Linked DNA regions of Homo sapiens. The protein of the gene in region 1 purifies or fractionates together with the protein of each later gene. This does not show direct contact. Each region holds a gene or a part of one and is shown in the gene's direction. Other genes may lie near its edges.

Evidence for each region.
Region 2: the proteins of PLD1 (region 1) and ECD purify together in Homo sapiens (co-immunoprecipitation; one large-scale study listed by IntAct). This does not show direct contact.
Region 3: the proteins of PLD1 (region 1) and GPT purify together in Homo sapiens (affinity purification with mass spectrometry; one large-scale study listed by BioGRID and IntAct). This does not show direct contact.
Region 4: the proteins of PLD1 (region 1) and AKAP11 purify together in Homo sapiens (affinity purification with mass spectrometry; one large-scale study listed by BioGRID and IntAct). This does not show direct contact.

The regions. Positions count from the first base shown.
Region 1 is NC_000003.12:171,681,482-171,685,059, reverse strand, and holds part of PLD1 (phospholipase D1), read left to right. Parts: intron 1-3,578. UniProt on the Homo sapiens protein: Function as phospholipase selective for phosphatidylcholine. Implicated as a critical step in numerous cellular pathways, including signal transduction, membrane trafficking, and the regulation of mitosis.
Region 2 is NC_000010.11:73,140,446-73,144,023, reverse strand, and holds part of ECD (protein ecdysoneless homolog), read left to right. Parts: intron 1-2,538; coding exon of another isoform or gene 2,539-2,637; intron 2,638-3,578. UniProt on the Homo sapiens protein: Regulator of p53/TP53 stability and function. Inhibits MDM2-mediated degradation of p53/TP53 possibly by cooperating in part with TXNIP. May be involved transcriptional regulation. In vitro has intrinsic transactivation activity enhanced by EP300.
Region 3 is NC_000008.11:144,502,781-144,507,002, forward strand, and holds the start of GPT (alanine aminotransferase 1), read left to right. Parts: upstream 1-1,359; 5' UTR 1,360-1,524; coding exon 1,525-1,686; intron 1,687-1,823; coding exon 1,824-1,913; intron 1,914-1,990; coding exon 1,991-2,099; intron 2,100-2,184; exon of another isoform or gene 2,185-2,217; coding exon 2,218-2,351; exon of another isoform or gene 2,352-2,386; intron 2,387-2,465; coding exon 2,466-2,709; intron 2,710-3,067; coding exon 3,068-3,147; intron 3,148-3,214; coding exon 3,215-3,351; intron 3,352-3,451; coding exon 3,452-3,626; intron 3,627-3,720; coding exon 3,721-3,876; intron 3,877-3,950; coding exon 3,951-4,063; intron 4,064-4,129; coding exon 4,130-4,220; 3' UTR 4,221-4,222. UniProt on the Homo sapiens protein: Catalyzes the reversible transamination between alanine and 2-oxoglutarate to form pyruvate and glutamate. Participates in cellular nitrogen metabolism and also in liver gluconeogenesis starting with precursors transported from skeletal muscles.
Region 4 is NC_000013.11:42,296,137-42,299,714, forward strand, and holds part of AKAP11 (A-kinase anchor protein 11), read left to right. Parts: intron 1-911; coding exon 912-1,046; intron 1,047-2,396; coding exon 2,397-2,661; intron 2,662-3,226; coding exon 3,227-3,578. UniProt on the Homo sapiens protein: Binds to type II regulatory subunits of protein kinase A and anchors/targets them.

The DNA.
Region 1 (3,578 bases):
GGCCGCATGTGGCCCACAGGCTGTGGGTTGGACAAGCTTGGTCCAGCTACGCTGCATTTTAAAAAATGCAATAATCAACTACACACAATGAACTAAAACTTCAGTGTAACTGTTAAATAAATTTGTGTCTATAAATCATAACAGCATCGATATATATTTAAGAATGGAGAAGAGGCCAGGTGCAGTGACTCACACCTGTAATCCCAGCAATTTGGGAGGCTGAAGCAGGAGGATTGCTTGAGCCCAGGAATTCAAGACCATCTTCGGCAACGCAGTGAAACCCCCTCTCTACAAAAATTAGCTGAGTGTGGTGGCATGCATCTGTTGTCCCAGCTTTTCTGGCAGCTGAGGTGGGAGAATTGCTGGAGCCTGGAAGGCAGAGGTTGCAGTGAGCTGAGATCATGCCACTGCAGTCCAGCCTGGGTGACAGAGGGAGACCCTCTCTCACACACACAAAAACAATTTTTAAATTTTTGAAAAATAAAAATGGAGAAGAACAAATATGGGGAGACATATATTTATTTAGCATACACCTAGTACTGGGTGTATGTGTGGATTCAGGGACAACTCCCAGTAATTCCTGTGCATGACAAAGCTTCAAAGTCCTGGGAAGTAGGAGGCCTCTGGGAAATCTAGGAAGCCAGGTCAAGAGTGCATGCAGTGGCCGATATTAGAGGTAAAGGGTTGGAAACAGCTCCAGGTAGTGCCTTATCGTTTCAATGTGTAACTTTGCTGCTTTATTACTGAAGTTAAAAATGAAGTGGAGGAAAGGAGGTTGCCAACCCATGAAGATTATGGATCTGAATTATGACTGATAGTGTTGCTGGCAATAGGATTGACAGCAAGTGGAAAAGATGTGAGTGAGGTGCTGAGTCCAGTAAGTAACTCACGCCTACCCCAGGTTGACAGAGGTGATATCCACAGTGGTGATCTGAGACACTGATCATACATGTGTATGGTGTTGCTGATGAAAAGTACCCTTGACATCTGTTTACAACCCCTCACTGATAAACTGAATATATGTCTAGTGTAGCATTGTTGAGAGACAGAGAGAGAGATAGAGAGAGAGAACAACCTAAACGTCAAAGAGTAGGGAAATGGTGAAGAACATAATGAATGGTAACAAATGGTTCATCTCTTTTATGGAATTGGGCAATGATTACAACTGTAGTTGGGGATACAAAAATAAACATAGAAGATTTATTTATTTAATTAAATAAGTGTTTATTGAGTTTCTGTTATATGCCAATCACTATTCTGGGTGCTAGAGATGTGGTGAATAAAACAGATGAAGTGCAATTAACTAGTTGGAGGGTAAGGATGGGAACTGTGTATACAAATAGAGAGTCAAACACATTTCAGGTGGTGATAATTATCACGGAGAATAGTTGAGCATGATCCGGGAGGAAGAGCATAGGAGAAGAGTTACTATTTTGTAAAGGCTCATCGGAGAATACATCTCTCATGAGGTTAGTTTTCAGCTGACATCGAAAGAAAGAGAAGAATGAGGATAAGAAACTGAGAGAGGGTGTTTCCGACAGAAGGAATAGCAAGTATGAAAGGCCATGAGGTAGAGGGGTTGGGTGTGTTCCAGGAATACGGCTGTAGTGAAGTGGGCTAGGAGAGGATGATAAGAACAAAATCAGAGAGGTGGGCTGGGGTGGGTTATGTGAGGTCTTGCAGACCACTGTAAGATTTTGACCCTGAGTGAGATAGGAAGTCATCGGATGGTCTTGAGCGAAGGGTAGGCGAGGGCTGACTTACATTTTCCAAGGATCATTCTTCAGAGCAGACCAGGGTGGCAAATGGTGACTCTGCAGGTTGTGAATATATTTTGAGGGTCGAGCTGACAGCATTTGCCGATGAACTAGATACAAGATGTGAGAGATGGAGAGGACTCCAAATCTTTGGCCCCACTGGAAAGATGGAATTTCCATGAACTGAAATGAGGTGGCTATGGGAAGAGCAAGGAAAATTTGAGGACAATTGCCACTGTATCAAAATATGTTCGTGAAGGCAGCTGACAAAGGACATTCAATGATGCTATCTTTGTTAGGAAGATGGAGCGTGAGGTGATTTATTTTTTTCCCACATTGTTGGTACTGTTTTCATTTTACTTTTATAGTCAAATATAAATACAAATTTAATTTTTTAAAATGAAAACAGTTTACCTAAAAAGAAAAGCCAAAGGATCATGGGGTCCTTCTAGAGCAGTGCTTTCCAAAGTCGATTCCTTGGATCCTGGAGTTTTTAAAAGGCTTTGAGGAGAACATTGAAGTAGGTGAACCCCAGGACCCTCCCACAGCTATTGGTACCTCTTCAACCAGAACAATCCCACTTGTATCTGTTTTAATTATTGGAGTTCCTTCTGAACTTGTTTTCAAAAAAGAAAAGTTCTACTAAAAAAATGAAGGAAGTTTAAAGAGCAAGGCTCTAGATTTAAATCATGTAATACCTTAAAAACTCAGGTTGCCTTATAAAACTTGAAACCCAAATTAAGCATGGAGTGACTCTTCGTTAGAAATTTAAAACTGAATATGAACTTGAGTTAATGACTTCCTTTTCCTGAGAATGCAAAGAGAGTTAGCCTCTCTGCAATATCAATTTCACTTGACCGCATATGACCATGTTGAATTGGGCTCCTTGTTGAATTAAACCTCCTGGTGTCATACAGAAATCAGTGTGGAGTGAACATCACTATGGGTTTTTATATAGAAAAACTGCACTAAAAACGTGGTTAGGAATCATATCTGAAATATATGTTTTTCAAAATCACTCAGTCATTTTCAAGATTTTTTTTCATTCAGAATTATGTTCTAAGAGGGAGAATTTTGCTTGATACTATTTTTAAAGTGTTGAATTTTATTCCCTTTCTTTCTTTCTTTCTTTCTTTTTCTTTCTTTCTTTCTTTCTTTCTTTCTTTCTTTCTTTCTTTCTTTCTTTCTTTCTTTTTCTTTCTGTATTATACTTTAAGTTCTGGGATACACGTGCAGAACATGCAGGTTTGTTACATAGGTATACAAGTGCCACAGTGGTTTGCTGCACCCATCAACCTGTCATCTACATTAAGTGTTTCTCCTAATGCTATTCAGCAACTATGTGCTGATCTTTTCCTTTTAAGCAATATTAAATAGGTAAGTGAGGGAAAAATTATTTTTGCAATTTAGTTGAGACAGGCTTTTCAAATTTGAATGTCTCGTCACAAGGGATAATATTAAGCTGTTTCTAAACTGTTCTTAGGAATGCAATGGATAGGATGTGTAAGATTCATCTAGTGCTGTTAAATAGCTTGTTATCTAATAGGTGAGCATGAGTTTTAAATATTTTACAAACCTAATATTTTAGTAATTCATTGAGGGAAGATACTCCTACTGCAAGAGTCATCATTGATCCACAGACGAAATACAGGTCTACAAACCCTTAACCACGATTCTAAATTCCAAAAAATTTTGAAAACCAAAATATTTTTTAAAATATAACTTGTTCAGTGCCTGTATTGGAACTGGCCTTGAACATATGTAGAAATTCGGTAGGTAGAGACTAAAAAGGTAGAAAAACAGGCATTTTAGGTAGATACT
Region 2 (3,578 bases), on another chromosome or scaffold:
CTCTATCCAGTAAATATCAATAGCACTTCTCCCTCATCCCCCAATCATGACAACCAAAAATGTCTCCAGACATTGCCAGAGGTACCTGGGCGGCAAAATCGTCCCTGGTTGGGAACCACTGATCTAAATGGGAACCACTGATCTAAATGAATAGATTTCAAAAACATAATGCAGTGAAAAAAAAAAAAAAAGCAAGTTATAAATACGTACAGTAATGGGTACCAAAAAAAAAAAAAAATAGAACGAATGAGTAAGACCTACTATTTGATAGTACAACAGGGTGACTATAGTCAATGATAACTTAATTATACATTTAACATAGAGTGTAATTGGATTGTTTGTAACTCGAAGGATAAATGCTTGAGAGGATGGATACCCCATTCTCCATGATGTACTTATTTCACATTACATGCCTGTATCAAAACATCTCATATACCCTATAAATATATACACCTACTATGTACCCACAAAAATTAAAAATGAAAATGAAAAAGAATAAAATATATACCGTGTGGATGTTACACATATAAAAATTTTAAATATACAAAATACTATACAGGCTGGGCGCAGTGGCTCACACCTGTAATGCCAGCATTTTGGGAGGCCAAGGCGGGTGGATCACGAGGTCAGGAGTTCAAGACCAGCCTGGCCAATATGGGAAACCCTGTCTCTACTAAAAATTCAAAAATTAGCTGGGCGTGTTGGCACGCCCCTGTAATCCCAGCTGCTCGGGAGGCTGAGGCAGGAGAATCGCATGAACCCTGGAGGTGGAGGTTGCAGTGAGCCGACATCGCACCACTGCACTCCAGCCTAGGTGACAGAGCAAGACTCCGTCTCAAAACAAAACAATACATTATTTATAGATACATATATATTCATTTATTCAACAAATATTTATTGAATGCCTCCTATGTGCCAGGCCCTATTCCAGGTACTGGGGATATAATAAATGAACCCAAAGTGTCCTTGTCCTTATAGAGCTTACATGCTAATGTAGGAGAAAGACCGCAAGCCATTATGTAATATTAGGGGGTGGTAAGTGCTATGAAGAAAAAGCAGTGTGTGGGGTAGAGGGGTAGAGACTGCTCTTCTAGATAGATTAGTCAAGGAAGGCCTTTCTAAGGAAGTTTTCTTTGAAAAGAGACCTGAATGAAGTGAAGGAGTGAGACATTCAGTTATTTAGGGGAATAACATTCCAGCAAAAGGACAGACAGCAAATACAAGAAATAGAAACAGAAATATATATACATACAGAGAGAGAGAAAAGTGCCGAAGTATACTTGAGAAAGCAGTCACCTCTGGGGAGCAAGACAATGGATTGGGATGGGTGGCAGTGGTCATCAAAGGAAACATTAGCTTTCTCTACAATTTTTTTTTTTTTTTTTTTTTTTGAGATGGAGTCTCTCTCTGTCACCAGGCTGGAGTGTAGTGGCACGATCTCAGCTCACCGCAGCCTCCACCTCCCGGGTTCAAGCGATGCCCCTGCCTCAGCCTCCTGAGTAGCTGGGACTACAGGCGCGTGCCATCATACCTGGCTAATCTTTTCGTATTTTAGCACAGACAGGGTTTCACCATGTTGGCCAGGATGGTCTCGATCTCCTGACCTGTGATCTGCCCTCCTCAGCCTCCCAAAGTGCTGGGATTACATCTCTACAATATTTTTAAGGTACATGATAAACCTATACACTTTTTTGTCAATTAAAAATAAACAAATAGGCCGGGCACAGTGGCTCACACCTGTAATCCCAGCACTTTGGGAGACCGAGATGGGTGAATCACCTGAGGTCAGGAGTTTGAGACCAACCTGGCCAACATGGTGAAACCCCATCTCTACTACAAATACAAAAAATTAGCCGGATGAGGTGGTGGGCACCTGTAATCCCAGCTACTCAAATTAAAAATAAATAAATAGCCAGGCACAGTGGCTAATGCCTGTAATCCCAGCTACTTGCTGAGATAGGAAGATTGCTTGATCCCAAGAGTCAAGGCTGCAGTGAGCTGTGATCATGCCACGCACTCTAGCCTAGGCGACAGAGTGAGACCCTGTCTTAGAAAAAGAAAAAAAAGAAACTATGCACAGAGATACTTATGTGTTGAGTGAGTGACATAATGGTGACATGATTTGTTACATAAATTGATGGCACCCTGTCTGAACTATTAAGAATGGATCAAATCAAGTTGTATAAAGGACTTGCTTTAATTGGATAAACATTTGCATACCTTGCAAAATCACGTAGGTGATGGGGAACTGTCTCTACTCTGTATTATTAATATGTAAACGTTACTAGGAGAGAGAATAAACCAAATAATCATAACAAAAGGCAAAATAAAAATCATTCTGGAATATCAAATGCTAAAGAGAGTCATAGTGAGAAGGTAATAAACTTTCACTAAGGTTGAAGCAGAGATGTTAAAAAAAGAAAGATAATGGAAGGCTTCAGGGAGGAGGTATTTGAGTTAAGTCTTAAAGAATGAGGATTTTTTTTCTTTTTATGGAGTCTCTTTTTTTTTTGAGACGGAGTCTTGCTCTGTGCCCAGGTTGGAGGTGCAGTGGCGCGATCCTGGCTTACTGCAAGCTCCACCTCCTGGGTTCACGCCATTCATCTGCCTCAGCCTCCTGAGTACCTGGGACAACAGGTACCCACCACCACGCCCAGCTAATTTTTTTTTTTTTTTTTTTTTTTAGTAGAGACGGGGTTTCACTGTGTTAGCCAGGATGGTCTCGATCTCCTGACCTCGTGATCCGCCCGCCTTGGCCTCCCAAAGTGCTGGGATTACAGGCGTGAGCCACCGCACCCGGCCAACGGAGTCTCGCTCTTGTCGCCCAGCCTGGAGTGCAATGGCACAATCCTGGCTCACTGCAACCTCCGCCTCCTGGGTAATACAGACTTTGCAAAAGTTAAAGAACTTCCCTGGGTTCTGGTTTTCTCATCTGTAAAACAGGATTATTACCTTCTATAATAGTAACAAAAGGACTCAATAAGAAAATGTATTTAAAGTGTTAGCATAGCATTTAATACATGCTAGATAAATTTTAATTGATGCTTTCCTTCTGGATCTTCTTTTCCTCGTATATAAAATATATATTATATGTATATTTTTATGTATTTTTAGTACGTGTTTTATATGTATATGTACTATTAACATAATACAACTGTATGTACATATATATACATATATAGAGAGAGACCCTGTCTCTGCATGTATGTATAGAAAGAATTATACGAGATCAGTGGCTTCATAATGATGTTCCATGGAGCCTGCTTCAGAGCCAAAAAGGAAGGCCAATTGTGTAGATCTCTGAGCTTCTATCCTCCAATTTATTTATTTTTATTTTATTTTATTTTATTTATTTATTGAGATGGAGTCTTGCTCAGTCGCCCATGCTGGGGCAGCTCACTGCAACCTCCACCTCCCGGGTTCAAGCAATTCTCCTGCCTCAGCCTCCCGAGTAGCTGGGATTACAGGCACGTGCCACAATGCCCAGCTAATTTTTGTATTTTTAGTAGAGACGGGGTTTCACCATGTTGGCCAAGTGAACTCCTGACCTCAAGTGATCTCCCCGCCTTGGCCTCCCA
Region 3 (4,222 bases), on another chromosome or scaffold:
GTGGTGTGGGTTTGGGCTGTTCTCCCTCCTGGCTCAGCACGGGCCCGTCAGCCCAGTGTCCTTTGGGCCTGCCCTTCCCCTAGCATCCCTGGTTGGAAGGGTGTCCTCACAGGGCTGTGGGCGGGCCAGGGCTGGCTGCTGGTTAAATTTAGTGTGGGGGGTGGGGCAGCTGCCCAAGGTCCACCTGCCACCAGGGCTGCCACTTGGACTCCCTTGCCAGGGGGCGGGCAGGGGCTGGCTCTGCCTGGGGCCAGGCCCATGTTAACCTGTGCCCCGGCCTGGGGGCCAGAGGGGCAGGCCTGCGCACGGGGAGGCTGTTGTGGCAGCGGAACAGAGACGTGCACGGTGAGAGGCCTGGGGGCCGGCTGTCCAGGGCTCCCGATGGCTTTTCTCCCAGCCAGCAGGATCAGAGGAGCCAAGGTCCGACTTGGGCCTGGCTGGTTGCCCACAGCCCTGCTCAGAGGGCCGGCTCCCTGACCCCCATGGTTCAGGTTTCGGTGCCCGACGCTGGGGTGGGCCAGCGTGGAGCCTGGCCTTTCAGCTCAGCAGGCCTGTGGAGGTGGGGCTCTGACGGCCTATCCCAGCTCGTTTCCTACTCTCTCCTCCAATCGGGAACAAGAGGGCTGGAGAGCTCAGGTCACCCCTAGCCTCGGGTGTGTCCCAAGGGCAACCCCCAGCTGGTGCCTGGTGAAAGGGCATGACAGCAGCCACGGTGTGAGCTGTCCCAGGGCTCAGGGCTGGACTGCCTGGCTCCAGCCCCCTCCCCCAGCCCCTCGCAGTGCTCATCAGGGACCAAGGTCCAGCTACAGAGCTCTTGCAGCCTCTGGGCCATAGCTGCCAGCTCTGGAGGGTCCAGATGGAACCCAGAGCCTGAACACCCCTCCCCTCCCCCCAGCACCCCCTGGATTCCTGAGGCCTGGCTCAGTTAATAGGAGACAGGTCCGCTGGCCCAAGCAAAGATGCGGGTGCCACGAGGGCCAGGCCTCGGCCAAGCCCTGCTGGGGTAAATCCCAGCAGCCCAGGCTCCAGTCTCGCCTCGGGGGTCCCTCCTTGCCAGCTCTGCCAGCCCCTCAGGGCTGCTGGGCACCCCTTCACCTCCTGAGCACCCCAGGTGCTCAGCCCTCTCCCCCTCCCCCCATGTCTAGTCCCTCAGAGCTGTCCGGACTGACGTCTGTACCTACCCCCCATGTGGGTCTCCTGCTCTCCCTTCGTGGGGACACTAGGCAGGCACTGGGCCTTGCCCCAAGCCCCGCCTGCCACCTCACCCACTGCCTCTGCCTCCCTGGGGCAGAGCTGTTCCCAGACGGGTGGGGCGGGGCCCAACTGTCCCCAGCTCCTTCAGCCCTTTCTGTCCCTCCCAGTGAGGCCAGCTGCGGTGAAGAGGGTGCTCTCTTGCCTGGAGTTCCCTCTGCTACGGCTGCCCCCTCCCAGCCCTGGCCCACTAAGCCAGACCCAGCTGTCGCCATTCCCACTTCTGGTCCTGCCACCTCCTGAGCTGCCTTCCCGCCTGGTCTGGGTAGAGTCATGGCCTCGAGCACAGGTGACCGGAGCCAGGCGGTGAGGCATGGACTGAGGGCGAAGGTGCTGACGCTGGACGGCATGAACCCGCGTGTGCGGAGAGTGGAGTACGCAGTGCGTGGCCCCATAGTGCAGCGAGCCTTGGAGCTGGAGCAGGAGCTGCGCCAGGTATGGCCCAGGGCCCCTCGCTGCCCTCCAGGTCACAATGGGGTGGCCGAGTTGGCCCCAGCCCCACTGGCACATGGGACAAGGGCTGAGGGGTTAGGTAGGGCACAGTCTCCCTGCCTGCTCCCCTCCCCTCCCAGGGTGTGAAGAAGCCTTTCACCGAGGTCATCCGTGCCAACATCGGGGACGCACAGGCTATGGGGCAGAGGCCCATCACCTTCCTGCGCCAGGTGAGGCTCCTGCACTGCCCGGAGCACCCCCCCACCCCCAGCCCATGTGCCCTGGCCTCAGCACTCCGTCTTCCCAGGTCTTGGCCCTCTGTGTTAACCCTGATCTTCTGAGCAGCCCCAACTTCCCTGACGATGCCAAGAAAAGGGCGGAGCGCATCTTGCAGGCGTGTGGGGGCCACAGTCTGGGTGAGAGCCAGGGCCAGGAGGAAGCAGAGGGCCGCCCTGCCACTGGAGGAGGGAAGTCCCTTGGGAGGGCTGAGGAGAACTTCACCTGTACTTCCCATCCTGTCCTGCCCGAGTCCAGGGGCCTACAGCGTCAGCTCCGGCATCCAGCTGATCCGGGAGGACGTGGCGCGGTACATTGAGAGGCGTGACGGAGGCATCCCTGCGGACCCCAACAACGTCTTCCTGTCCACAGGGGCCAGCGATGCCATCGTGGTAGGCTGGGCATGGGCACCAAGACATTCCTGACACTGCAGAGGGGGCGCCCAGGGTGGGGGACAGGTGCGGCCCCAGGCCTCGCCAACCCTGCCTTCCCCTTCCTTTCCGCAGACGGTGCTGAAGCTGCTGGTGGCCGGCGAGGGCCACACACGCACGGGTGTGCTCATCCCCATCCCCCAGTACCCACTCTACTCGGCCACGCTGGCAGAGCTGGGCGCAGTGCAGGTGGATTACTACCTGGACGAGGAGCGTGCCTGGGCGCTGGACGTGGCCGAGCTTCACCGTGCACTGGGCCAGGCGCGTGACCACTGCCGCCCTCGTGCGCTCTGTGTCATCAACCCTGGCAACCCCACCGGTGCGTTCCCCGCCGCCCCGCCCCACTCCCCCCGCGCCCACGTTGCGTTCCCCGCCGCCCCGCCCCACTCCCCCCGCGCCCACGGTGCGTTCCCCGCCGCCCCGCCCCACTCCCCCCGCGCCCACGGTGCGTTCCCCGCCGCCCCGCCCCACTCCCCCCGCGCCCACGGTGCGTTCCCCGCCGCCCCGCCCCACTCCCTCCGCGCCCACGGTGCGTTCCCCGCCGCCCCGCCCCACTCCTCCCGCACCCACGTGCGCCCTGGCCCAGGCAGTGCCGGGTCCGCTGGACCCCGGCTGCCCAGCGGAGGGCAGTGCGCCCCCTTGGCTCACCCAGCACTGCTGCCTCCCCGGCACCCCAGGGCAGGTGCAGACCCGCGAGTGCATCGAGGCCGTGATCCGCTTCGCCTTCGAAGAGCGGCTCTTTCTGCTGGCGGACGAGGTGCGCGGCGCGGGGGAGCGGGAAGCCGGGCAACAGTCCGCCCCCGTGACGCCTTGCGCCCTTCCAGGTGTACCAGGACAACGTGTACGCCGCGGGTTCGCAGTTCCACTCATTCAAGAAGGTGCTCATGGAGATGGGGCCGCCCTACGCCGGGCAGCAGGAGCTTGCCTCCTTCCACTCCACCTCCAAGGGCTACATGGGCGAGTGCGTGCGTACGAGGCGGGTGGGGGCTCGCGGGCCATGGCCAGGCCCTCCTCGCCCGATGGGCCACCCCCTCCTCCGCACCTGACCTGGCCGTGCGCAGGTGCGGGTTCCGCGGCGGCTATGTGGAGGTGGTGAACATGGACGCTGCAGTGCAGCAGCAGATGCTGAAGCTGATGAGTGTGCGGCTGTGCCCGCCGGTGCCAGGACAGGCCCTGCTGGACCTGGTGGTCAGCCCGCCCGCGCCCACCGACCCCTCCTTTGCGCAGTTCCAGGCTGTGAGTTGGGGGCAGGAGGGGGTCCAGGTGACCTAATCAGGGGTGGGGGATGCCGAGTGCCGTGCCCTGATGGGCCCTCCCTCCGCGGCCACAGGAGAAGCAGGCAGTGCTGGCAGAGCTGGCGGCCAAGGCCAAGCTCACCGAGCAGGTCTTCAATGAGGCTCCTGGCATCAGCTGCAACCCAGTGCAGGGCGCCATGTACTCCTTCCCGCGCGTGCAGCTGCCCCCGCGGGCGGTGGAGCGCGCTCAGGTCAGGCGGGGGCGGGGCCTGCGGGGTGGGCAGGGGGGGCCGGGCATCCCTCTCTGACGGCTCTCCGTCCACAGGAGCTGGGCCTGGCCCCCGATATGTTCTTCTGCCTGCGCCTCCTGGAGGAGACCGGCATCTGCGTGGTGCCAGGGAGCGGCTTTGGGCAGCGGGAAGGCACCTACCACTTCCGGTGAGGCCTGGCCCTCACTCCCTGTCCCGCCACCCTGGCCCTTCACTCACTGTCAACTCCTTTCAGGATGACCATTCTGCCCCCCTTGGAGAAACTGCGGCTGCTGCTGGAGAAGCTGAGCAGGTTCCATGCCAAGTTCACCCTCGAGTACTCCTGAGC
Region 4 (3,578 bases), on another chromosome or scaffold:
ACTTTTCTTTTTCCCTCGTGCTGCTTCTTAAAAATTTGTGATTCCTACATATTTCCTTTTGTGGCAGTAAAGTGTCTCCTCATAGAGGAGGAAATAACATTTTTAGGTCTTTCTGAATAATGCATATCAGGTGATTATGGGCAAAAACTGCTGTATATTTTGATTGTGGCCTTGCTTGAAGGAAATAATTTGGACAGAAGGAACAAGAGAGGATATATTCTTGAGAACATACATAGCTGGAAAGAGAAGTATTCCAAGATATTTCTTTAATGTTCTTCTTCTCCTTTAAGAGTTACTGATAAAACCATGTTTATAAAGGAAAGTACTCTACAAAGGGTCAAAGACTTTAATAATTCTTTAGCTGGGTAAAATATTTGTGTATAAAGGGCAAACAAGAAGAAGAAATAAAAGCGATTTTCTTTTCCTTTAATCTTCATTAAAATTATCAGTTAAAGTCTAATACAATACCTTGGAGAGGAAAGATAGAAAAACGGATTATATTGTACAGAGTTTTTAAAAAAAAGTTTTTAAGATGTACATTCTCTAGCAAAAAATTTTGTATGAAAAAAATTTCATAAAGTTAAGTTAAGACCTATATGTTGACATTGCTAAAAACTATTAAATGCTTAATTGTCATGGATGTGTTAGGTACCCTGTACAATTTTTTTATAGCTTGATATCAGTACATTTTAAAGGCTACGGGGATAGCCAGTATTTAATAATTTTAGTATATTTTATTTTTGAATTTTTGAAAAATTATCTGTGAATAATAAACTGTATATGTTAACTATTATGAACCAGGAAATTCACTAGCCAGTAGACCTTAAAATTTTTGGATAGGGTCCACATTATAGGAACCTTAACAAAAGTGTTACTCTACAGTGTTACTTATTGTTATTATTTTAAATCAGGATTTAGCTGCAGTTTCTTTGGAACTTCCAGATATTCTGAATTCACTCCACTTCTGCAGTCTAAATGAAAATGAAATTATTTGTATGAAGAATATAAATAAACCATTAGATATAAGCAGTGATCCTCTAAATCAGGTAACTTTTGTAGATAATTTCTAATGAGATTTTTAGGGCAAATTTTACTATATTTGATAAAGATGATTAAACTTTTAAATGCTTGGATGACATTTGTTTTTTTTAAATGGTATCTCAAGGAAATATGATTCATAAGAAATATAACTCATGAAGCATTGACATCCCTGAAGGATATAATAATTTTGGTCATATCTTATAAATTATATTTTTTAACTGTGAAGTTCCGTAGATGGTATGCAAGTACATGTTAATTTTTTCTGAAAATTTATTATTTCTGGATTTCTTGAACTACTTTTACCTTTGTATAAGCTACAGTGACTTTTCCCTATTATGGCCAATTTCAAATTTATATAAATGTTACGCTATATGTTTTAGAGAATGTACTTCAGTTCATTTTCTGGTTTAAAAAAATTCCATGTAAAGTGGACATCTGATGTGTTCTTTATAAATAAAAATGTTACCATTTCTTACAGGTGGTTAGTTTTATAATATTCAGCATTTAGTTCTTTACCAAGTATGATTTTGTTGATAATGCATCAGAGAAAATGCTTTGCATTCTAAGAGATAAGACATATACAATTGAACCAGAAAATTTAAAATTTGGATTATTTTAGTTTTAAAAAAACTGCTATGTTGTTCTTTATAAGGTCTGCCAATAAAACTAGAACTGCTTGCTTCATTTCCTTAATTATGTTCTTTATTCGTATTTGCTTTATTTGCTAGGATATAAGAGGTGATAAGCTATTATATTTGATTTCTAGTTTTTTGAATAAATAATTTCATCAGTATTTACTTGAAAAAAGTAGTATGAGGGGGAAAATCTGGTTACTTGTATTTTTAAAGCTATAAACATTGTAAGTTGTAATGCTAGGGAAATTTAAGTAAAAGGAGTAGACTTTTAACAATTGTGATAGGAAGGAAGATGGCATCATACTTGAAACTACGGGAAAATGGGATTAAAAATAAAAGAAAATAGAACTTGGTTGCTGCCCCCAAACAATTTATAATAGTTAGTGAGATAGGTGAATGATTAAGGAAAATCATAGGGCTGTACAGTAATACAGGAAAACATAATTGCTCAAAGGAATGGATAGTAAGTTTCATAACATTTCAGGAGACTGGGTAGAATTTGAATACCTGGATAAAAGAAGATGGGAGAAAAAAGGACTGGAAAGTGAAAAATGTAGAGAAAGAATTAAGAAGTAAACATTACAAAACCAAGGAGCTTTTCAGGATGCATGAATTTCTTGTTTGTTTTTTTCTCTGAGATTGTCTTATATCTAGGCTTTACTTCATGTTGTTTTGTATTTGAAATTAAAATTGTTTTTATTATCTTTTATCTTTCCCAAGAGTCATCCTTCTGGAATGCTTTGTGTCATGAGAGTGTCACCTACATCACCAAGACTTAGGATTGATTTTATCTTTAGTCTCCTAAGTAAATATGCTACTGGTATAAGGTACACCTTGGACACATTCTTGCATCAGAAGCACCAACTTGAGACCACTGATGAAGATGATGATGATACTAACCAGTCTGTGTCATCCATAGAGGATGACTTTGTCACTGCTTTTGAGCACTTAGAAGAGGAAGAGACTTCAAAGCCATACAATGATGGTTTGTTTTTCATTAGACTTTTTCCTAAAATAGGGAATTAAAATTTTTCAGTTTTGAAAATTTTAAGGCAGGCTTGTTCAGTTGAAATTTATGTTGAGATTTGATTCAATTTAAACCTTTTAACTTTTTTTCTGATTACCTAAGGAAATTCCTTATGATTTTTAAGTTCATTGTAATCTGGTTTTCAGTTTTGCTTATTTCAGGTTTTCATATTTAGTTGGTGCTGTTCACGCACTGGTTACATCATTAAGTGTCTGGAACATTCCTAGGTTCCAATTTTGGAAGAGTTAGCTGGCAGAGTCTCCACGGTAATTTTTCTAACATGCGTGACAGCATGCAAAACATCCCATAGACCAGGTATCCCTAGACATAGAGTAAACTGAAATTATTTTATAAACAGTATATTTACTTTCAAATGTTACTTGGGTGAATCTTTCTGTTAAACATAGTTTAGAAGATACACATAAATATTATATGTTTAAAGTCAGTTTATTCCATGGATTTAAGTTAATTTCCAAAAAGTTTTGTTCAAAAATAATTTCACCATTTCATTCTTTTCCTATAGGAATGAACATTACTGTGCTAAGGAGCCAGTGTGATGCTGCTTCCCAGACGGTTACTGGTCATCATTTAGAAACCCATGATTTAAAGATTCTCATTAGCTCTGGACAGCAGAAGTCATTGGCTAAACCCTCAACTTCCTCAGTGAATGTCCTGGGACATAAAGAACTACCTTCTGTGAAAACTTCAGTCACAACATCAATTTCAGAGCCTTGGACCCAAAGGAGTTTCTATAGGTCATCTAATGCTTCAGATAAAGATAGTGATTTACAGAAAACATTTTTTTCGTCTTCTCCTGCCTACTCATCTGAATCAGAATGTTCAAGTCCAAGTCCTGTTATTTTCTTGGATGAAGA